Regions from separate parts of the Homo sapiens genome. Here region 1 is linked to region 2. The links come from fine-mapping of genetic effects on gene expression. A gene starts in region 2. The other region holds a variant in brackets. All regions are shown on one strand. Distances are between the middles of the regions.

Region 1 (16,881 bases), 25 kb before region 2:
TATGTCCCTAGCACAAGTGACAAGGAGGCCATTCTCCCCATGTGACTGGCAGCCCTAGGGAACGCCTTTTTACCAGGCTAAGTAAGATGAAATTGATACTTTTCCTTTCATCAAGGCAATCTTTCAAGTAGAACCCACGCTGGCTTACAGTCCAAAGGCCTGGCTTCTAGACCAGCTGAGACCTATCCAGTTAAAGGAATCCTCTAGCGGGGCACAGTGGCTCACACCTGTAACACTTTGGGAGGCCATTGTAGGTGGATCACCCATGCGCAGGAGTCTGAGACCAGCCTGGGCAATATGGTGAAGCCCCACCTCTCCAAAAAAATACAAAGTTAGCAGGGTGTGGTGGCACAAACCTGTGGTCCCAGCTACTGAGGAGGCTGAGACAGGAGGACTGCTTGAGTGCAGGAGGTCGAGGCTGCAGTGAGCCAAGATGACGCCAGTGTACTCCAGCCTGGGTGACAGTGAGATCCTGTGCATTTGTTCCTCACACCTCCTCTGCAGGAAGCTCCCGTCTTAGCAGGTACACAGGCCATGTGCTAACTGCCCTTTACCCCCACTTGCCTTGAAACCTGTGGGACACGTCCGCAAAACAAATATTTGCTTGGTTTTAATGGTGGCAATGGTGGCATTCTCGTCCTTGGGCACCACTTCTCCACAGTAGAGCAGGCAGCAGGCCATGTACTTGCCGTGGCGAGGGTCACACTTGGCCATCTGATTGGAGGGCTCAAAGTAGACACTGGAGATCTCTGCCACTGAGAGCTGCTCATGGTAGGCCTTCTTAGCTGAGATAATGGGTGAGTAGGTCACCAGGGGAAAGTGGATGCGAGGGTAGGGCACCAGATTGGTCTGGAACTCTGTGAGGTCCACGTTGAGGGCACCATCAAAACACAAGGAAGCAGTGATGGAGGACACAATCTGGCTGATGAGCCAGTTCAGGTTGGTATAGGTAGGGCGCAGGTTGTGGCAGCAGAGATCATAGATGGCCTCGTCTACCATGAAGGCAGTCTGAGTGCTCCAGGGTGGTGTGGGTGGTCAAGATAGAGTTATAGGGTTCTACAACTGTCATGGACACTTGGGGGACTGGGTAGATAGCAAATTCCAACTTGAGCCAGTGCCATCCCCAAAACTATGGAAGATCAGGAAGCCCTGAAGCATGGTGCACTGGTCTGTCTGGAGCAGGCAATAACATCATTAAGGATGTAGATGGCATGTCACCCGTCCCAACCCTCTTCTCCTGAGGAAGCTTCTGTGTTGAAAGCTACTATTACCTAACTATACTTGCATTCACTTCTGTATTTTAGAAAGACTTTGAAGTATAGTTTATACTTAAGTGTGTGCATCTTTTGGACATACAATGAATGATTTGACATGCGTAGACACCTATATAACCAAACCAACAGAGATACAGAAATTCCCATCACCCCGAGAAAGTTCCTTTGTGTCCTTTTGCTTCGCCTCCATAGAGGTGAAAAAAGATCACCTGTCCAGGTGTGGTGGTTCACACCTGTAATCCCAGCACTTTGGCGTACCAAAGTGCTGGGATGGCAACACCCCATCTCTACAAAAAAATACAAAAAGTATCTGGGTGTTGTGGTGTGCACCTGTAGTCCCAGCTACTCAGGAGGCTGAGGCGGGAGGACCACTTGAACCCAGGAGGTAGAGGTTGCAGTGAGCTGTGACTGCACCACTAGTGGCATTCCAGCCTAGGCGACAGAGCAACTCTCTCAAAAAAGAAAAAAAAAAAAAAGATCACCTACAGGAGGTTTGGAGTTCCTAGGGAAAAGATGACTTGGAAAGGCAGTGTTGTGCATACGCAATGGTAGGGATGAGGAAGGACGGATGATTTGCACTCAGAGAGCCAGGCCCTCTCTGTTTTGTTGCCCTGCCCCCTAGTTACAGCAGAGTGGGAGTGGTGGTGGCATCCTGTTGAACATACAGATTACCAGGCCTCACCTCAGACTGGAACCCAGGAACCTGCAGCTTTAAAAAGTACCCCATGTGATGCTGATACAGCTGTTTCTTGGGTAAGAAAATCATCAGTCTATACCAGACACATGGTAGTGACAGTATAAAAGAAGTCTACCCCTAGGAGGTATTTTATTTTCATTCTTGAGGAAGGGAGCACAGAATCCTACTCCTCAGGTCACTTCCAAGTCCTCAGTCTCTACCGAGCAGCAGAGAGTATGTCTAGGCAATCCCCCTACAGCAACAGGGCCAAAGTCCTGGCTCACAGGCAGCCTCACTGGTGGTTCTCAATGCCTCGGATAGGGGAAGGGTGAACTGGTGAAATGGTTGAGTGCTAAACAGGAGCCCCTCCCACCTGGACAGATCTGCATAGGAGTCTAAGAACAACAAGCTGAGCTGCTGTAGAGATGGATCAAAGGTCAAAGAAGGCTTGGATCAGACAGACCTGGCAAAGCGAGGAACCATCAGGGCAGAAGCTTGAGTCCACAAACTCAAGGCAGAGCAGTTTATTCAGGCTTCCAACCCTAGATCCGTACCCAGGACAGAAAACACATATCCCCTTAAGAGAAGCTGAGTGGACTGACAGGCTGGAGGAATGATGTCAGGTACCAGCACAGGCTGTGGTTGCCTCCCAGCCAGGAAGAGGGTTAAGGATGCAACGACCTCCTGTAGGTGCCAGAGGCCTGCTCACCAGTTTTCAGATTCACTCCAGCACCAAATCGATGATCTCCTTCCCCGCAGTGTAGTGGCCACGGGCACAGTTGTTGGCAGCATCTTCCACGCCAGATATCAGCTGTTCAGGGTGGAACAGCTGCCTATAAATGTCAGTTCTTACCCCATCTTGAGGGGAAGAAAGGACAAAGGTAAGACAAGCTGGTTCATTCCCCAAGGGAACGCCAGACACCAGAACCTTTGCTGCTAAGCCTCCCCAGGTACAACTGCTCAACAGAGTGATGATGCACGGCATCTTCTTTTTCTTTTCTTTCTTTTTTTTTTTTTGAGACAGAGTTTCACTCTTGTTGCCCAGGCTGGAGTGCAATCACGCGATCTTGGCTCACCACAGCCTCTGTCTCCCGGGTTCAAGCGATTCTCCTGCCTCAGCCTCCCGACCAGAGACCCACTTCTAAGGCCAGGTCCTGCCTGGGCTTGAGACGGGGAGAGCAGGTGGCACCTTCAGTGGTCCCTTCCCTCTACAGCGACTTCATTGTGCTAGGTGAGGAATCAGAGTGGTGTTAAGGAGAATCTCACTTCACTTTCGAATAGGGTAAGAATACAGACTAATGTAAATTTTCACCATGGAAAAAGAAAAGAAAAAAAAAAGAATACAGACTAATGAAGAAACCCAGTGCACCATTTAACATCTAAAATAACAGCTTTAAAAAATGGAGGAGGGGTAGAATTGTCACGATTAGAAAACAGAGGAGATCCAGATGCAGAAGGGAGGAAGCAGGAAAGCCTCCGGAAGCCAGCAACAGCCAAGTTCACATAGGCCCACATCCTACGTGGGGGGGGCCTATTTCAGTTAAGGCTAAGCAGGAGGCCAGTATGAATGTTCTTGGCTCCCTGCTTCTTACGCAATGGGCCACCCTCAAGAGTCTGAGGACAGGGAAAAGCAAGTTTTAAATTTCTGCTTTTACATCTGCTCCTTTCTGCAGTCTGCGTTCTAGGCCTGATCCCTGACTCCTATCTGGCAGTTTCCTGGCAGAGTTGTGCGAATGATCTTCCTCTCAATATAGGAAGCCCCCAGGACCTCTTCTGAGGACAGAGTCTAGACAAAAGCAATAGACTTCAGACTTCAATGCTGTTCATGGCAGGGGACTGCTTCCATCTCAAGTATTTTCCCCTTAAGCAGAGCTCCCATCTGACATTGGCGCTAGCAAAAACTATGGCCTGGGGGAAGGAGCCCCCACTCCTCCGTCCACTCACCTATGACAGCAGGCTCCAGGTCCACAGACAGCCCAGGACACATGCCTGCCAGGCTGGGTCTCCCTGAAGAAGGTGTTGAAGGAGTTATCACTGCTCCCCAGGGCCTTGTGGCTGGGCATGGTGCCACTGGGCTGGATGTCGTGCTCCAGGCAGTACAGCTCCCAGCAGGCATTGCCCATCTGCACTCCGGCCTGGCCCACATGGATGGAGATGCACTCACACTGTGAGGGTGAGCAGAGGAATATGCCAGGGCATGAGTGGTGTGGAGTGAAAAGGTGGGGACTTGAAAAGCCTTCCCTGGGAGCACCCCTTGTCTTTCCTCCCTAAAGGCTGAAGCTTAGTGTTACCTAGTCCAAAGTTCAGACGACTGGCCGGGTGCAGTGGCTCATACCTATAATCCCAGCACTCTGGGAGGCCACGGCAGGCAGATCACCTGAGGTCAGGAGTTCGAGATCATCCTGGCCAACACAGTGAAACCCCACCTCTACTAAAAATACAAAATTAGCCGGATGTGGTGGTGGGCGCCTGTAGTCCCAGCTACTCAGGAGGCTGAGGCAGGAGAATCACTTGAACCCGGGAGGCAGAGGTTGCAGTGAGCCGAGATCACAACACTGCACTACAGCCTAGGCGAGAGAGCAAGACTCCATCTCAAAAAACAAACCAAAAAACCAAAGTCCAGAAGACTCGGTTCTCTTTCCAAGCCTTCCCATACTTTAAGCCAAACCACCTTCAGGCCCTCATTTTCCTTCATTCACTCAGAGCTTAAGAAGGTGGTTATGCCTAGGTCTCTGGGGCAGGAACTAGAGAAAGCCAAAACCAAATAGCCAAATCCCACTGCACAGTGTCCTCCCTGCTGTTTGGGGTGCCTTGGGAAAGCTCAGAGTCCTGTATTCCAAGACAGGCCCACCAAGAGCTTCTAGATTCAAGCACTGGGGCCTAGAAGAGGAGGTCTCCCATGGGCAGCAACTGTCTCCCCCACATCCCAAAAGGGCAGAAGACTAAGTTCAGACCTGTGGATCAACTGAGGAAGCAGCCTTGGAGTTAGAGCTAGCCTTCTGAAAGCTCACCCACAAACTCCCCTTTTGGGGGGACAGGCACCTACTCTAGACACCTGTCCCTGCCAACTGCAGTACAGGCAAGCTAATCCAAGTCAGTACTCCTAAATTAAGCGTCGCAGCGGAGACCAGAAGACCCACCCTACCTTTCGACTCTTTTCACTCAGGTAACTCCTATGATGGATAAACCCTTCCTCCCTTCTTCTGGTCCTTCACCCAACCCACGGTCTAGGGGGTCAATTTAAAAGGGCCGAGCACCTCCCAGATGTAGAAGGGATCTTCTAGGGTGACAGTAGGCAACAGTTTAACAGTCTTAGGAACTACCCTCTAAGACAGCCTCAGAGCCTTTAAGGGGGCTCAGAGCACAGGCAGGGATCAAGAGGTTTCCGGGGGGTACAGGGACCTCTGTGTACCCACCCCAAGTTCTCAGGCTTTTTTTTTTTTTTTTTTTTGCTTTGATTTCTTTGAGACCGAGTTTCGCTCTTGTTGCCCAGGCTAGAGTGCAATGGCGGGATTTCCGCTCAACGCAACCCCAGCCTCCCAGGTTCAAGCGATTCTCCTGCCTCAGCCTCCCGAGTAGCTGGGACTACAGGCATGCGCCACCACGGCTGGCCAATTTTGTATTTTTAGTAGAGACGGGTTTCTCCATGTTGGTCAGGCTGGTCTCGAACTCCCGACCTCAGGTGGTCCGCCCGCTTCGGCCTCCCAAAGTGCTGGGATTATAGGCGTGAGCCACCGCGCCTGGCCAGTCAAGTTCTCAGTTTTAACAGAGGGACCTCAAGTCCTTGGGCACCAAACAGGAGAAAAGTGGAGTCAAGAACATTCTTTTCAAGGCCCCAAGAGCTTACAGGAATCCCTAGTCAAGTATGGGGCCAAAGGGCGAGGACCTCTACCTCTGGCCAGAGTCGGGCGCCCAAGACAAAGACATTCAGGGGAACAGGTTTTGAACTGGAGAAACCTGTTAGAGCTTCCCAATCATCCTGGACCTTGCCTCCTGCGCGGCAATGTGATCTCAGAGGGAGGCGGGGACCGCAGCTACAAGCGGGCACCTCTTTGTCCAGGACCGCAGCGGGAGAAATACGGGGCGGGCCCTAGATCCCCTCCAGGCTCCAGAGCGCGCTCTGCCGCAGAGCCGACTCCGCTGCCCGACCTTGAGCGCAGCGCACAAACGACCCCACCATGTTCTCGCCCACGCTTTACCGCTCGCCAGCCTCCCTAGTCCCTCAGCGCTTCTGGGGCGCTCAGAACGTTTCTAGCTCGCACCGCCTCCCGTAGGGGAAGCAGGGTAGAAAAGTGGTGCCGGGACTCCTCGGGCGTCCCCGGGCTTTCTGCAGAGCCCACCTTCGCCCTGAACGCCCAAACACCCCTGGCATCCCCGCGCAGCCCACCCCACACCCTGGACTGCCGGGGCGCCCTTCCGTTTTGCGCTGCGGGCCCTTCCCACCGACCCCCCGTGCGCCCCCGGCATCCTCCCCATCGTGCGACACCCTCCCCCGCACAGCATCCTTCACCATGGTTGATCCAGTAGTTGAAGTTGGAGGGTCGCTGACTGCAGACACCATACGGGTCTCCAGCAACACCACGAATCCCAACGCGCGGTTGCTGGCGGGACCTTATAAATCCCCGGAGAGCCGCCGGTTGTGTCTCCTGGCGGGGACTCCCATTGGGTCGCAGCTGGACAGAGATCGGATCGTCCCCCGCGCGACTCTCACTGGGCCAGGCCCCCACCGAGGCCCGCCCCTCTCTCCGCTATTGGCCAGCCGCTTACGAAACAGCCCCGCCGCAGCGGTCATTGGGCAGTTGGTAAAGCCAAAGGGAGGCAGAGTCGGGCGTCCGCGTCCTCCCGGCCAGCTCGACCGTCTTCTCTATTGGGGTGAGTGCTGGGTCTACGAGGTGGAATCTTTGGGGGAAACACCCTCATTCTGTTTTAGTTTTAGGACTTTGCACCAGTGACACCGCTGACCTGATTCGAAAAGTGTGTCGGCCTTGGAGAAGGGTGCATACTTAAGTTCAGCAACCACTGCAGAAGGAAAGATGCTGTGATGAGAACCGACTGCTGGGAGTTTCCAGAGCGGGACAAAATGCGGCTGGGGTGGGTAGGATAGGCAAACAGGCATGGGAAAGGACATTGCAGGCGCCGGTAGTTGACGTTTACTTCCCTTTTGACCGGAGCAACTGCTCAGGTTCAGGTGACTCGGGTTCCTGCAAGAGCAAGGGGTCCGGGCTGGCCAAAGCAGACTGAGGAGGGCCTGTAGGGTGGAGGTGAAAAGGAGGCGTGGGGCCTTCAATGCTAGGCTGGAGAGCTTGCATATAATTTCCCTGGCATATAATTTCAAACCATCGAGGGGTTTTGAGCAGAGGAGTGATGTGATCACTGCAGCATTCTGAGCAGTACTTAGATGTTACTTGTGCATTATTTTTTTCCAGTGGTGGTTTCATATTGTTCCATGCTAAAGAGCATTCACATACTTTTCCCTTTTTCCAAACTTTTCCTTAGCTGAGACGTTTTACTTCGAAATATCTAAGTGTAACAAATTAGCTCCTTTCTTTTTGGGAGGGTTAATTGGTGTTTGGTTTATCAAATGATTGGCCACCCCGCCCAGTGATTACCCTTAGTATTTGTGAGGCACATTCCGGAGGAACCCAAAGCATCGCCATCTCCTCTTCATCCCCACTTCCCAGTGGACAGGTGATTGCATCCAGTTTGTATAGAATCAGGCTTGGAGACTTGAATTACCTGAGGAAAATCTGCAGCTGATATGACTTTCTGCTGATAGAACTCAGGAAGACCCTGTCACTGGCCATTGTGACATCAGACCAGCTGTCCCCTGGATGCCTGCACCCATTTTTACACAAGACTCTAGCCATGTCATTCAAAACTTTCCTGAAATGTTTTGAAACGAAATGCTTGGTCAGGTGACTCAAGAAGGTTTAAGTCCAGAGTGCAGAGGTTAACTTCAAAGTCTGTAAAGTATTCTTTGGTCTCAATCCTTGTTAATGGGCTTCATGAGGCTGCCAGCTCTAAAGTAGACGCCTCTGGTTAGGGGATAAGGTGAGAGAATGTGGGCAAACATCCAAATAAGTGCTTTGAAACCTCATGTATATAGAGTTAAGACACGGCTATTCATTGGCTGTCACTACCCCTAGCAAAACAACTCAAATGTTGCATTTGAGTTGTTGCCTTCGACTGAAGGCAGGCCTATCAATGATTAAAATAAAGCTACCTAGTAATAAACTCAAAACATCATAAACTCAACACTATCATCTCTTGCTTGCCTCACCTCATGAAGCACTCATTCCACCTGCTGGTAGAGTCAGCCAGTTAAAAATGTCTTTCCATTCCTGAGTTGACTCTAACCCAGGGATTATAAATACATTTGAAACAGTGACATTCAGTGTTATTTATGGAAGCTGCACAATCCCCCATCCCCGCCATTGGCAGTGCACTTCTTTACATCAAACTGATGAAAACTAATCCTCTTATAAGCTGTTTGGAGTTATTTCTATTATCCAGACTGCCTTCTATCTTAGAGTTTTATTTCTAACTTTTCCTCCTCCTCTACTCTATATCACCCTACTTAACTCCTTTGCCATTACAGGCACACCATTTTCACATACCTCTTCAGGAATTTAAAATATTCCAAAATTCAAAGAGTCTCATTGTTGCTGGAAAA[A/AG]GGGGTCCAATCCAGACCCCAAGAGAGGGTTCTTGGATCTCACGCAGGAAGGAATTCAAGGCGAGTCACAGAGTGCACAGTAAGAGGTAGTTTATTGAAAGCTACTCAGTTACAGAGTAAGGTGTCCTTAGAAAGCAAGAGGAGGAACGTGCCATCCCTGTTTTAAACTCTTCTTATGTAGGGGTCTTAACCATGTTAAAGCTAAGTTATGTCTACATGCTGGTGGGCTGACAGCATGACAATTTAGGAGTTTGTTGATTGAAAGAAAGTTATCCTTGGCATTTGAGTGTGTAAGTACCTCAAAGCATGATTATAACTATCTTAAAACCATATATTATTACTCAATGTCAGGACATCTGGACATTCTGCTGTCATAGGAGTTTGTCCTCGCAGGCATTACTAAACTGCTCCCTTAGCCAAAACATCTTATGGCCACGGGTGGTGACTGGCAAGGAATATGCCTTGCTGGTTTTAGATGGAGTTGTTTTTTTTTTTTTTTTTGAGACAGAGTCTCGCTCTGTCACCCAGGCTGGAGTGCAGTGGCGTGATCTCGGCTCACTGCAAGCTCCGCCTCCCGGGTTCACGCCATTCTCCTGCCTCAGCCTCCTGAGCAGCTGAGACTACAGGCGCCCGCCACCACACCCAGAGAATTTTTTGTATTTTTAGTGGGGACGGGGTTTCACTGTGTTAGCCAGGATGGTCTTGATCTCCTGACCTCGTGATCCGCCCGCCTCAGCCTCCCAAAGTGCTGGGATTATAGGCGTGAGCCACCGTGCCCGGCCCCTAGATGGAATTGTTTTTTAAAATGGTATCAACCTGGCTCTCCTATGCTCCTATTTCCCTAACATAATCCTCGATTTATAAGAGATCTCTTAATCTTAAGGAGAGATGAGGTGTGAAGGTCATTCTTCTGTAACTTCTTCTTGCTGATTTTATGGGCATAAGATTGGAGAAGTAAAAATTATCTGTTTGCCCCATCTATGGGCCCAAAGGTGTCTTTATTTCCTGGGTCAGAAAATGGGATGGGCTGGAAGCCTTGTGCCAGCATTATGTAGAATTGTAATCTAGAAGACACAAACTTCACTAGGAGTTAAACAAGTAAGGTGCTAAGATTGGTAATAACCAGACAGCTATCAAAGGTCCTAAGAAGGGCAAAAAAAACAGTGAGACTCAGGAGGGAGCATCTTTTTGAGATGGAGTCTTGCTCTGTTGCCCAGGCTGGAGTGCAATGGCATGATCTCAGCTCACTGCAACCTCCACCTCCTGGGTTCAAGCAATTCTCTGCCTCAGCCTCCCAAGTAGCTGGGATCACAGGTGCCTGCACCACACCTGGCTGATTTTTTTTTTCAATCAATTTAGAAAGTTTATTTTGCCAAGGTTGAGCACACACTCATGACATGACACAGCCTCAGGAGGTTCTGACAACACGTGCTAAAGGTAGTCGGGGCACAGCTTGGTTTTATACATTTTGGGGAGACATGAGACATCAATCAATATGTGTAAGGTGTACACTGGTTCAGTCTGGAAAGGCGGGACAACTCGAAGTGGGGGCTTCCAGGTCATAGGTAGATAAGAGACAAAAGGCTGCATTCTTTTGGGTCTTTGATCAGCCTTTCACTGAATACACAATTTATATGGAGTGGGGAGTAAAGGAATAGTCACGCTGATGCCTTAGTCTGGCTCAGTGGATCTGCATTTTTGCATAAACAATAGGGCAGAAGAAGCAATCAGACGTTCATTTGTCTCAGGTGAGCAGAGGGATGACTTTGAGTTCTGTCCGTTGTCCTGCACCTGAGAACTGGGCAGCCTCGTCCTGAGCATGACGGAGAAGGGGACCTGGGGCTAGGGAATCCCTGATTCAATCATGCCACTCCCCAGGAGACGTTCGGAGCCCAGGACATGTCGGGAATGAGGAGATACGAGGTGGCCGATTTTTTGTATTTTTAGTAGAGACAGGGTTTCACCATGTTGGCCAGGCTGGTCTTGAACTCCTGATCTCAGGTGATCCACCTGCATTGGCCTCCCAAAGTGTTGGGATTACAGGCGTGGGCCACCATGCCTCGCCACAAGGGCACTTTTAATGGTTGATCAGTTAAGACATGGCCTGTCACTATTCATTGCCTGTCACTACCCCTAGCAAAACAACTCAAATGTTGCATCCAACTGAAGGCGGGCATATCAATGATTAAAATAAAGCTACCTAGTAATGAACTAGGGATTGATGTCTTGGTTATATTTATGCAACCAGGCAGTTTGTTCATATATTTTCTGTAGATCTTCTTCTATTTGACTGGAGGTGTTTACACGAGTGCAGCAGGGTTTATTGATTATAGTGCAAATACTCCCCCTTGTTCAACCAATAAGTAATGTAGTGCTAATCTATTATCCATTGCTATATTTGCTAAGGAATCAAGGAAGAGTTTTGATTTATCTAAAGCCTCCCCCATTTTATAAGACAGTCTGTAGAATGAAGTAAAGTTTTGAAGAGTTGTCTTGGGATAGGCAAATTTTCCCTACGGGGCCAATAAACCACTGGCAGCCCCAACTCCAGCCAATATAAGGCCAGCTGCCTGCTTAGCTCTCAGGTGAGTGATGTTATGTAATTATATATTAAAGAGCTTTGCTTGTTCTATTATACATTGACCCCCGAACCAAACATTATCAATACACTGTGTATCCATGGGTTTCCATGATCCCAAATGAGAGACAAGTTATTTATAGGCTGATTGAATGGATGACCACATAGCCACAGGTATAATCCGTTGGGGGTGCAAACCTGTATGGGATGGGAGTTGTTAAGAAGGTTGAGTACCTGTAGGAGGGACTGAGGATGTTACTTATCTCTTTCTTTGCAAAACAACAGCTTTAGATCTTCTAGGGGTTCACAAGTGTAGGTTGTGGTGTCTTTCTCAGGTGCCTGTGGGGACTTGTAAAAAACAGGTTTAATCTTGGACAGGTGTACTCAGCTAGTGAGTCCCCGAGGCTTAACAGCAGTGGGGGTGCCGTGCTTAACAATACTCCCCAATAAGGGCCCTTTCATTTTAGTTGTAATTGATTTTGGGGAGATCCTCCTTTCCAAGGTTTTTTTTTTTTTCTTTTTTTTTTTTTTAACAGAGTCTTCCTCTGTCACCCAGGCTGGAGTACAGTGGCATGATCTTGGTTCACTGCCACCTCCATCTCCCAGTGCAAATGATTCTCCTGCCTCAGCCTCCTGAGTAGCTGGGATGACAGGTACCCACCACCACACCTGGCTAATTTTTGTATTTTGAGTAGAGACGGGGTTTTGCCATGTTGGCCAGGCTGGTCTTGAACTCCTGACCTCAGGTGATGCACCCACCTCAGCCTCCCAAAGTGCTAGGATTACAGGCGTGAGCCACTGTGCCCAGCCTTCTTTCCAAGTTTTTAATAAGACTAAGTCTCCTGGTTGAATAGGGGAGCTACGAATATTTATGGCAGTGGCCTGCCTGACACAGGTATATTGAACAAACATGCATGTAACATATGACTCTGTTTACGTTGCGGTGAAGACTTAACCCCACACCTGGTCATAGATCCTGTTTATAGTTTGATATCTTATTGCCATAAATAATCTGTTCTGTAAGTTTTATGATTTCTATTTTAATGTTAATGCTGGCCAGTTGTATCTGAATCCCAAGAGGGGAAATGTGTAGTGAGGTATGTCTGACCCCCAGCTTCCCATCATAACCTGAACTAGTTTTTCAGGGTATTTTTTTTTTCTTTGAGATGGAGTCTTGCTCTGTTACCCAGGCTGGAGTGCGGTGGTGTGATCTCAGCTCACTGCAAGCTCCACCTCCTGGGTTCACGCCATTCTCCTGCCTCAGCCTCCTGAATAGCTGGGACTACAGGCGCCCGCCACCACGCCCGGCTAATTTTTTGTATTTTTAGTAGAGACCGGGTTTCGCCATGTTAACCAGGGTGGTCTCGATCTCCTGACCTCGTGATCCACCCGCCTCGGCCTCCCAAAGTGCTGGGATTACACGTGTGAGCCACCACACCTGGCCTTTTTCAGGGTATTTTTAAAATTCTCTTTGGCCAAGAGGGGGGTCTGCTCTGTTGGGGGGCTTAGGGTTTTATTTTTTAGTTTATATTCCTCCTTTTTTGTCAAGGTATGCCAGAGGCAGTATTAAAAAATGAACCAGGCTGGGCACAGTGGCTCATGCCTCTAATCCCAGCATTTTGGGAGGCTGAGGCAGGTGGATTACCTGAGGTCAGGAGTTTGAAACCAGCCTGACCAACATGGTGAAACCCCGTCTCTACTAAAAATACAAAATTAGCTGGGTGTGGTGGCGCATGCCTGTAAGCCCAGCTACTAGGGAGGCTGAAGCAGGAGAATCACTTGAACCCAGGAGACGGAGGTTGCAGTGAGCCAAGATCACACCATTGCACTCTAGCCTGGGTAACAAGAACAAAACTCCATCTCAAAAAAAACAAAAAACAAAACAAAACAAAAAAACAAGAAAATAAAACTCCAAGAGTTTACGTTTTATCAAGATAATTCCTATGCTATGTTTATTAGGATTTTGGTTACTAAAAAAACTGAGATTTAAAGGGTTAAAGCTTTTTTTTTTTTTTTTTTTTTTTGACAGAGTCTCTCACTCTGTCCCCCAGGCTGGGGTGCAATGGCACGATCTCGGCTCACTGCAACCTCTGCCTCCTGGATTCAAGCTATTCTCCTGCCTCAGCCTCCCGAGTAGCTGGGACTACAGGCACGTGCCACCACTCCCGGCTAATTTTTGTATTTTTAGTGCAGATGGGGTTTCACCATGTTGGCCAGGCTGGTCTTGAACTCCTGACCTCAGGTGATCTGCCTGCCTCGGCTTCCCAAAGTGCTGGGATTACAGGTGTGAGCCACCATGCCCGGCTACCTTTTTTTATATAAAATTATCCTCTTTATAACTTGCCTTACCAAAAATACATCTTCATTTCCAAAACTTTCCTCATCTCTCTCCCCTATTTACTGGTTCCTTTCTACCTTTTTTCATAAGTAACCATTTTCTTTTCTTGAGATGGTGTTTCACTCTTGTTGCCTAGGCTGGAGTGCAATGGCACAATCTTGGCTCACCACAACCTCCACCTCCCGGGTTCAAGCGATTCTCCTGCCTCGGCCTCCCAAGTAGCTGGGATTATAGGCATGCACCACCACATCCAGCTAATTTTATATTTTTAGTAGAGATGGGGTTTCTCCATGTTGATCAGGCTGGTCTTGAACTCCCAACCTCAGGTGATCCATCCACCTTGGCCTCCCAAAGTGCTGGGATTACAGGCATGAGCCATCACGCCCAGCTTTTTTTTGTTTTCCCTGAGATGGAGTCTTGCTCTGTCGCCTAGGCTGTAGTGCAGTGGCATGATCTCGGCTCACTGCAACCTCTGCCTCCCGGGTTCAAGCGATTCTCCTGCCTCAGCCTCCTGAGTAGCTGGGATTACAGGCGCCTGCCACCATGCTCGGCTAAGTTTTGTGTTTTTAGTAGAGACGGCGTTTCACTATGTTGGCCAGGCTGGTCTCCAACCTGTGACCTCAGGTGATCCTCCTGCCTCGGACTCCCAAAGTATTGGGATTACAGGCATGAGCCACCGTGCCCAGCCATAAGTAACCTTTTTTTTTTTGAGTCGGAGTTTCGCTCTTGTTGCCCAAGCTGGAGTGCAATGGTGCGATCTCGGCTCACCACAACCTCCGCCTCCTGGGTTCAAGTGTCTGTCCTGCCTCAGCCTCCTGAGTAGCTGGGATTACAGACATGCGCCACCATGCCCAGCTAATTTTGTATTTTTAGTAGAGAGGGGGTTTCTCCATGTTGGTCAGGCTGGTCTTGAACCCTGACCTCAGGTGATCTGCCTGCCTTGGCCTCCCAAAGTGCTGGGATTACAGGTGTGAGCCACCACACCCAGCCAAGTAACCATTTTCTTCTTTTTTTCTTTTTCTTTCTTTTTTTTTTTTTTTGAGATGGAGTTTTGTTCTTGTTGCCCAGGCTGGAGTGCAATGGTGCCATCTCAGCTTACTGCAAACTCCGCCTCCCGGGTTCAAGCAATTCTCCTGCCTCAGCCTCCCGAGTAGCTGGGATTGCAGGCATGCGCCTCCACGCCCAGCTAATTTTGTATTTTTAGTAGAGACAGGGTTTCACCATGTTGGTCAGGCTGGTCTTGAACTTCTGACCTCAGGTGATCCGCTCACCTCAGCCTCCCAAAATGCTGGGTTACAGGCGTGAGCCACCGCGCCCAGCCCAAGTAACCATTTTCAAGTCCATAATTTGAATTGACCCTTAGATGGCTTCTGAATTAGACAACATTATTCTTTTTCTCAATAAGACTAGTTCTCAGGAGGCTTTTGCCCTCCAATGCCACCCAGAGAGATGCTGAATTAAACAACCCAAAGAATGAAAACCATCATGACCAGAAGGAAAATGACAGGCGTAAGCTTAGGGCATACAAGCCGAGGATCGCGTGTGTCACTAGCGAGGCATAGACAGCAAATATGCAGCTGAGAAAGGGGACAAGGGGGACTGAGAACCAATAGGTGCTGGCAAATATGCCTCTGAACCTCAATTTATCCAACAGCCCTGGGTAGGGGCCTCTAACCCCCAGTTCCCAGTGAATATAAAGAAACATGAGCATCCCATGACTCCTGGGGCTCAGAAGGCTCAGCAGGAAAAGGAACAACACAGGGAAGGGAAGGAACGCAAAGGGCACTCACTTGTCTGTGAATCTGAAAACTTAAGAAGCATTTTATAGAGAAAACCATTCCACAATCCTAGAAACATGTTTTTCCGTATCATAAACTTTTCTTAATTGGATATAACTCAGACATCCATCAAGTAATCCAAGGAAAGCTATGGACCAAAATTTTTGTTAAAGTTTTTATGGAAGTTTGGATTTTTTAGGGTTTGTGTTTGTTTGTTTGTTGTTGGTGGTGGTGTTTCTGAGATGGAGTCTCACTCTGTGGCCCAGGCTGGAGTGCAGTGGTGTGATCATGGCTCACTGCAACCTCCATCTCCCAGGCTTAAGCAATTCTCCTGCCTCAGCCTCCCGAGTAGCTGGGATTACAGACATGCACCACCATGTCAGGCTAATTTTTGTATTTTCAGTAGTGATGTGGTTTCACCATGTTGGCCAGGCTGGTCTCAAACTCCTGGCTTCAAGTGATCCACCCACTTTGACCTCCCAAAGTGCCGGGATTACAGGCGGTAGCCACCACACCCGGCTGGAAGTTTGGTTTTTAAGAAGCCTTTTTCACATTTTTTTTCTCAGTGTCAAATTATTCTCTAATGTTTCCATTTTATCTAGAACTGACTGAATTGTATAAGAAAAACAAAATCTCAGCCAGGTGCAGTGGCTCATGCCTGTAATGCCAGCAGTTTGTGCGCCTGTATTCCAAGCTATTTGGGAGGCTGAGGCAGGAGAATCGCTTGTACCCGGGAGGCAGAGGTTGCAGTGAGCTAAGATCACGCCACTGAACTCCAGCCTGGGTGACAAGAGCCAAACTCCGTCTCAAAAAAGAAAAGAAAAGAAAGTTATCCTTGGCATTTGAGTAAGTACATCAAAGCATAACTATAACTATTTTTAAAACATATATTGTTATGCAATATTGGGACAGCTGGACGTTCTGCTGTCATAGGAGTTTGTTCTTGCAGGCATTACTAAAACAGCTTCAAAACATCTTATGGCCATGGGTCGTGACTGGCAAGGAATGTGCCTTGCTGGTTTTAAGCTGGAGTTGATTTTAAAATGGTGTCACCCTGGCTTTCCATGCTCCTGTTTCCTTAACCCCATGGTCAACTCTAGTTTTAAAGCAATCCAAAGTATCCTGATAAACCTGCATCCTTTCTCTCTATATATCCTCCCCATCCTCCTCCACCACATAGCAATGAAGTGACACTGTGAATTGAAGTAACACCCATCAGTCTGGGCAAGGGAAGGATAAAAGAAGTTCGATGGAGAGGCTTTTATGGGAACAAGAATATCCTGTTAACCTAGTGGTGAAGAATCAAGGTAAACAGTGATAGACCAGGACTATGTTTCAGGATTTATTCTTGAGCCAGTGCCAAGACTGTACAGGCAGTACCTGGCTTTCAAACGGCGGAATTTCTTTCTTTCTTTTTAAATTTTATTTTGTTTCATTTTTTTGAGACTGAGTCTCGCTCTGCCACCCAGGCTGGAGTGCAATGGTGCGATCTCGGCTCACTGCAACCTCCGCCTCCCAGGTTCAAGCGAGTCTCCTGTCTCATCCTCCCAAGTAGCTGGGATTA
Region 2 (8,000 bases):
TCCTGAGCAAAATACATCATTGTTCGGGCCGGGCACAGTGGCTCATGCCTGTAATCCCAGCACTTTGGGAGGCTGAGGTGGCCGGATCACCTGAGGTCAGGAGTTCAAGACCAGCCTGGCCAACATGGCGAAACCCCCATCTCTACTAAAAAAATGCAAAAAATTAGCTGGGCATGGTGGGGGCACCTGTAATCCCAGCTACTCGGGAGGCTGAGACTGGAGAATCTCTTGAACCCAGGAGGCGGAGGTTAGGTGAGCAGAGATCGTGCCACTGCACTCCAGCCTGGGCAACAGAGTGAGACTCTATCTCAAAAAAAAAAAAAAAAAAAAAAAAAAAGAAAAGAAAGAAAAAGATGCTTAACAGCAACCCTGGCTTCTACCCACTAGATGCCAGTAGCACACCTCCCTCATTCTGACAACTAAAAATGTCTCCAGATATTGCTACATGTCCTCTGGAGGTCTGGGGATGCGGGAGGAATCGAGAAACACACTACTTTAGACTAAAGAACTCTGGAATATAAGATACAGTAACTCCTAGGCCCTGGATCACCTCAAAGGTAGGACTGGCAATCTAGTTCTCCAACTGTTCCCATCTGCAGACTACTAGGCTATTGCACTGGGTGGAGCGAGAGAGAAAGCTGTAGGCCACCTCTAGCCAGACTCCTTACACCTTTCTGCAGGCTTAACGGCTGGGAGCGCTCCTTTAACACCTGCAGAGATGAGTAACAGCCCTGCTGTAATTGCCCTAATGGTGGTTTATCTGCAATATGTCACAGTTATGAGAAAAAAGAGCTACCCCGAACCTTTACGGGGTTTACCCCAAAGCTTTAGTTAAGGAGCTCAGCATCTCAGAAGCTGCTTGTTCTCTCTAAGGATGGAACTGTTTTTCCCCACCTTAAAATGTGTGACACAGAGCAGGGAAAGGACTAATAAATAACTGGTTAGAATCTTCCATGAAATTTTCTACCTTCTATTTACATCATGTCCTAGAAGTTATATTTTTGCTCAAATTAGTATTTGAGAAAAGAAAGGAGAAAACAATTAGGACTGACAGTAAGGAGAACACTGGGTTGGATTACAGCTGAGTTGCTTGAGTCCAGAAAAAGGGATAGGATTCTTCCAACAGTTCTTTCTCAAGAAATAGGAAATTTCCAGAAATACTGAAGCCATTGTTAAAAAACACAACCCAAAAAAAAAAAAACCCACCTTTTTGCCTTTTTAAAAGAGGGAAAACATTTTAAAACACATAAAATGCATTAAAAAAATTCTTAGGCCCCTTTCTAGAATAGGGACCACTGTGTTCGTTGAGAAACAAAAAGAAATGTAACATATATAATTTAATTTGCTCACACAATTTTTGGCAAAATCAGTTTAAAATAGTATCAAACAAGAATTAAGAATTTTGACTGGTTGGAAGCTGCAGTGAGTCATGCTTTTGACAGAGCACAACGGGGAACGGGAACGGGGAGGGGAGGGGAGGTGGGAAGGGAAGGGGGGAAAGGAAAGCGGGGGAAGGGAGGGGAGGGGGAGGGGATGGGAGGGGAGTGGGAAGGGAAGGGAGGGAGGGGAAGGCAGGGCAGGGCAGAAGGTAGGTCCTGCCGGGCGGAGCGGCTCACCTGGCCAACATGCTGAAACCCCATCTCTACTAAAAATACAAAAATTAGCTGGGCATGGTGGCGTGCACCTGTAATCCCAGCTACTTGGGAAGCTGAGGTAGGAAAATCACTTGAACCCGGGAGGAGGAGGTTGCAGTGAGCCGAGATCATGCCACACACTCCAGCCTCGGCGACAGAGGGAGACTCCATCTCAAAAACAAAACAAAACAAAAGAAAGATCCTGGCCAGGCACGGTGGCTCATACCTGTAATCCCACCACTTTGGGAGGCCAAGGTGGATGAATCACTTGAGCCCAGGAGTTGGAGACCAGCCTGAGCAATACAGTGAGCGCGTCTATGTTTTTTTCTTTTTTCTTTTTTTTTTTTTTTGAGACGGAGTCTCGCTCTGTCACTCAGGCTGGAGTGCAGTGGTGCAATCTTGAACTTCTGCCTCCCGGGTTCAAGCGATTCTTGCCCCTCAGCCTCCCAAGTAGCTGGGATTACAGGTGCCCACCAACACGCCCAGATAATTTTTGTATTTTTAGTAGAGATGGGATTTCACCATGTCGGCCAGGCAGTTGTTGAACTCCTGACCTCAAGTGATCCGCCCAACTCAGCTTCCCAAAAGAGCTGGGATTACAGGTGTGGGCTATGTTTTGTTTTTTTTTTTTTTTTTTAAAGAAAAAACAATTAAGAATTTTAAAACAAACTATAAACTCCATTTAGAAGTCTCTTAATTTATGTCAGTTTATAAAATTAGACAAAACCTTGCCATGGAAAAGGAGTATGGGAACTAACCTATATTATGGGCTATATACTCGGCACAGTGCTAAGTGCTTTTATACAAATTCTTCCCTCTATCATCATCTTCATTTTACAAGCTTGTCCAACCCGCGGCCGGCATATGGCTCAGAACGGCTTTGAATGCGGCCCAACACAAATTCGGAAACTTTCTTAAAACATTATGAAAAATTTTTTTTTTTGCAATTTTTTTTTAAGCTCATCAGCTATCATTAGTGTATTTTGTGTGGCCCAAGACAAGTCTTCCAATATGGCCCAGGGAAGCCAAAAGACTGGACACCCCTGTTTTACACAATAGCAACCTGCATCTCATGGAGGTTAAATAACTTTTTTTTTTTTTTTTTGAGATGGTGTCTCGTTCTGTTGCCCACACTGGAGTGCAGTGACTCAATCTCCGCTCACTACAACCTCGGCTTCCCAGGTTCAAGCGATTCTCCTGCCTCAGCCTCCCGAGTAGCTGGGATTACAGGCTTGTGCCACCACCCCCAACTAATTTTTGTATTTTTTTTTTTAGTAGAGATGGGGTTTTGCCATGTTGGCCAGGCTGGTCTCACACTCCTGACCTCAGGTGTTCCGCCCGCCTCGGCCTCCCAAAGTGCTGGGATTACAGGCATGAGCCACCGCGCCCAGCCTAACTGTTTTAATGTTAATGAATGATAGTCAGGACTCAATTCCATGTATGTTTCAATTCCAAGATCCATGTTCTTTCCACTGACTCCATAATGCCACTAACTTCGTAAAATTAATTGAGAACTCTACTCCTAAACCTTGAAGTCTTAAAAGAACCCCGGGACCTCCACCAATCTCTAGATCAAAAGTCATCAAAATACCTACAAAACAACAGACACAGATTCCCTTTTTTCCTCCTTTGATGAAAGGCTGTTTTGGACGAATGGGTACCTCTTGCTCTTCTACTAGACATTACACTTCACCATCTGTTCAAGCACGTGAAATAATAAAATGATCTGCATATTTTTAGAAATAATTTTGAATGATAGGATGTGTCTATGGTTGAAATGACATTATATTTGCACTTCAACACAGTTTACCGAAATAAATTTTTTTTTCAACTTTCTCACTTGCGATGATGGTGGTAGGAAGGGTATTAAAATCCCTAAACTGAAGGGAAAAAAAAAGTTTTTCTTCGAAATTTACTTCCAGGACGTCAGGGATCTACTGCACTTGAAATATGATTCATCTGGAAAACCACAGGCTTCCAGTGCCTCGGTAAAGTGGGTAGGTTACCAGGGTTATTTTGCCGCGTCCCCAACACCAGTTGTTCCTGGGGATCCTCTGTGGAGCAGATAGGTGCCCGTCATAAATGAGACGGTGAATTCAGGACTGGCGGGTGAGGTCTAAAGTGGGAAAGGAACCCAGCAACACCCGCGGTGAGCGGCGGCCGAGAGGCACCTGCCGGGTCCTGCAAGCTGGCGGGAGCTCCGAGAGCCGGAATGGGGCGCCTCCCTTCCACGCGCCCGCGGAGCACCGGCCTTGGACGGCGGCGGGGCGCACGGCCCGCGCTCGAAGCCCCCCCGGGGGCAGAGGGCCGGGCTGGCTGGGCCGGGTGGCCCAGGGAAGGGTTCCCGCGGCAAAAGATGCCGGGGCGGGACCCGGTTCCCTCCCTAGCCTTCAGCGGCCCCAGGGGCGGAGCCTCGCCGAGCTGAGGCCCGAGGGGCGGGGCTTAAGGCCGCGCGAGGAGGGCGCGGTTGCCGGAAATTGAAGAGCCGGGGTTCAGATTCTGACTGCGGCGGCTCGTCGGGGGAGACTGTGGGTGTAAACGGCCTCCAACCTGCCTCCCTACCTGTCGGCGAGAGAAGAGAGCGGTCCCTGGCTGCAGCACCCGGGAGCCGCAACGCTGGCACAGCACCGCCTTCCGGTTTCGGCCCTCGGCTGACACTAACTCGCTCGGCTGCTCCGCTGGTTCCATCGCCGCTGCCGCCACAGGCTCCTCAGCCACGGCTGCGCAGACGCTGTCTCTGCTGGCTCGTTATTCACTGCGCTGGCGCGGCTTGGCAGAGGCGGGGCGGCGAGCGGACGGTCACTATGTCTCTGCGCAGGCGCCCGCTTCCCCGCTCTGGACTCTACTGCGCAAGCGCCTTCATTCATTGCCTAACCTAAGTGGCTAGGTGTCGGCAGGCTTTGTGACAGGGACACTTCTTGGCACCAGTGACACATCTCCATACCCACCTGGCCACTGGGCTTCACTTAAAACCTAGACAAATCATTAGGTTGACCTTACTGTTTAGTTTTCTGGGATCTGAATTTAGTCTCCTGAATAAATGGGGACATTATTGGGGGCAATATGAAGGGAATCTGGGTCGGACTTCCCATCAAGTTTTAGCCACATTAGCTTCTTCTATAGGAAACTACTTAGAGGGGCATGTATCTTTTCGGTATTGGAAAAAGATGCGTGGAAACTTTAATTGCTGGTCTCTTCTACTCATTGTGACCATTTACTATGCGGCAAAATGTGTCAAAGCGCCTTTAGAAACTTACTAAATCATCAGTTTCCTTACGGGGTCGGCACGCTTGTGCACAAAATGAGAAAGGTAAAGATCAGAAAGGTTGCAGCACAACTCTAAAGCCACTGCTCTTAATTAACTAGGATTGTCAGGAAAGCAAGATTATTTCAGACAGAACAGTATTATATATGAACAAGGGTGAGAACAAATTTAGGAATGGTTAGTAGACCACTGTGGCTGACCCACATTACACGTGGGGAGAAGTGGTAGTAGAGGTAGGTAAGGCAGAGTGGGCCCAGAGCTCCATGGCTTTAATGTCATGCTAAGGAATTTAACATTAATAACATGAACAATGGGAATCTGTGGAATTTTAGGCCAGAAATAACTGTTCGATATTTACTGTCTGCTGTATGTTAAGCACTGTAATGATCCTATCTGTGCTTCAGAAAGATAACCTATGAATAAATAGAGGGGCTAGATTGAAGAGAGGAAAAAGAGTAGAGGTAAGGTATCAGGTAGCTATTACCTCATCAGTCTAGCTCAGAAAGGCCCTGAAGCTAGCAGAGGGAACAAAGATATGGGAATGGACTTGAAACAATTAAAATTGTACAGAACTTAGAAACTAGCTGGATGTCTGTATTGTGATGGGGGTGACACAAAGCAACTGCTGGTTTTCCCAGGTTAGATAACTAAGTAGCTGGTTGCCAGTTATGGGAGCTTAAAAAAATAAGATGAACCACCAAATTAGGGGTATCTCTGTGTATGTATGTGAGCACATGAAAGTGTGTACGATTGTGAAGAGTGAAAAAGGAGCTGTTTTACGTGTTGATTTTTCTGTAGAACATACCATTGTGGCTTCAGTGTATGAACTATTTGTGAAGTTGGTCTGAAACTCATTAGTCAGCACTGAAGACAGCATAGGAGCCATCAGTCCTTCACCCTCCCCTGGATCTCTTCCTGAGATAGGAAAAGTCACGTTTTATAGGCTTTGGTTTAATTAGCATGCACAATCCATCTGCCAAAGTTGGTAGGCATCTTTTAAGGAAAATAACTTCCTCATGTGGCTCCTCCTTCCTTTTGCTCTGGAAGCATCAGGACTGTTTCAGTTTTGCAGGCCTTCCGCATAGCTGTTTATATCACATGCCACAATTCAAAGCAAATGGAAAAAAGGACTGGTGTGACTGAAACCCTGAAATTCAAGCGCGTGCTAAGTGAATTCAAGATCTTTTCTGTATTCCTTTTTCAAGTAACTCCAAGCGTCAGAGGGGCTAATGAATATGGCAAATCAGGTAAATATTTTACTGATGAGAATCTCCAAAGTGTAAAGTGGCTACCTCTTACCTGTGTCTAACATAGAAATAGCGGAACTAGTTGGCAAACACACAAGATGAACAGCTTGAAGAGACAGGAGCTACGGCTGATCCCTACATCTTTCCCTCCCAAATATCTACTAAAGGCAATGTTGGTTAGCCACAAACTCTCGGCATTTGAGACCGTTGATTTTTAATATTTTCTTAAAAAAATACAAAGGAAATTAACTCTGTAGGTCAATACAACTCAGGGAAAGAGGGAAAAATGGAATTTCAGAGCAAAGGTTGTTTAGGTTATCACATTCCCACACTCCTAATACCCACAAAACAAGAATTTCACTCCATGACACAGAGGAACATTGAATGGTAGCTCAGAAATGTTGATAGCTGAGGTACTGAAACTAACAAAAGGATTTTGGTTGTCCTTGATTATTCTGTCCTGTGATGAATAAAATCTACACTAAAGGACAGGTAAGGAAAACTTATAGCAGAAAAAAGACTAGATGTACCAAACACAGCAGTACAAACCACTCCTTGGCAGACATGTGCTTCTAAAAGAATGGGGCAGTAATCAGGTAGCTGAACTACTAGGCTACTGTCACTCCCAGCCCATCCCCAAATAAATAGTGTGGAAGTGTAATAGTGTAGTAGTATTTGATCCAACAAAGAAAGGCTTTCACCCCCATTCAAGGCAAACATTGCCATGGCTAGATGAGCCCTGGCAGGTAATAAGATGACTGTAAAATCACAGGTTCTTCTAGTTTATCCCCAGTTATACTGAACTCCCACATTGATGTCATCTTCTCTCATCCCAACATTTGTTCACTCTTTTATGCTGTCTCCAGTGCGAAAGACCTCGGGGAAATAAAAAGATCCTTCAAATAATATACCCTTCTCAGTCTTCCAGGTTATGTAATACTTCAGTGCTGTTCTAGGTTCACTCACAATCAAATTCAGTTTAATTCACTTAATTCTAACTTCAATTCTGATATACAAATCCTGACCTCCAAAAGAAGTGTCAGATGAGTCTCTCTCTCCCTTGTCCCCAAAGTTTTGTGGGGCTCTCCCTTTTGTTTCCCTCTAGAATGGAACTGTGTTGCCCCTAGCTACCTGTATATGAGAAAATGTAGTTGTTCCTGGAAAAAAAAAAAAAGACTTGGATTTTACCAAGTTTACTTAAACTGGTATCTTTCCAATCATCTAGGCTGGATATTGCCCATATCTAGTAGGCTATACTCACCTTAGTTCTTTGCAACATATGAGGCACAACATACATATAGTACACCAAGCATGTGGTAAGTTAGAAATGACAGGAAAGTGCTCCCCAAAGCAGTGGGAGAGGCAATGTGGTCTCTCACATCCATTCAATGTGCATTCTTTTTCCTGGAATATCTGTTACCCACCCTTCTCAGGAACAAGAACCAGGACGACGGGGAGTATGTGTCAAATAAGTACAATCATCACTGCACTGGTGCCTGTAATCACCCGGTGCACATAGTGAGAAACAGACATTCTGGAAAGGATTTTTGATTCTCCCACTAACTGTCCACTGGACTGGTCACTAGCTCTGGATGGTGCTCCAACAATGGTCACTTCTCGCGGAGAACACAAACACCAGCATCACAGCGCTGGGTTCCCATGGATGTCACGACTTCCCAGCTGTCGATGATAGGGTCATAACATTCAATGCTACTTAGCAGGGAATTACCATCATATCTGAGTGGGAAAGAAGCAAAAGAAAGAAATGAGTCAGCTGCGTGCAGTGGCACGTGCCTGTAATCCCAACTATGCAGGAGGCTGAGGTAAGAGGATTGCTTAAGCCCAGGAGGGAAT

The links. PIP is the estimated chance that this variant, and not a neighbour inherited with it, causes the effect.
Region 1: its variant is fine-mapped to the expression of RABIF in whole blood (TOPMed, PIP above 0.99).

The regions. Positions count from the first base shown.
Region 1 is chr1:202,854,988-202,871,868 of GRCh38, forward strand. It overlaps the pseudogene TUBA5P and the pseudogene ACTG1P25. Among named protein-coding and RNA genes, the nearest start is that of RABIF, 26 kb to the right of the region's middle. RefSeq lists a silencer at 6,661-6,710. The variant A/AG (reference allele first, on the strand shown) is at 8,624.
Region 2 is chr1:202,884,777-202,892,776 of GRCh38, forward strand. RABIF (RAB interacting factor) reads right to left here and starts at 4,373. Exons shown (of 2, transcript NM_002871.5): 1 at 4,197-4,373. The coding sequence starts at 4,322. It overlaps KLHL12 (kelch like family member 12), which reads right to left. Exons shown (of 12, transcript NM_021633.4): 12 at 6,344-7,883. The coding sequence ends at 7,757. RefSeq lists enhancers at 1-408, 4,139-4,408 and a silencer at 3,779-4,068.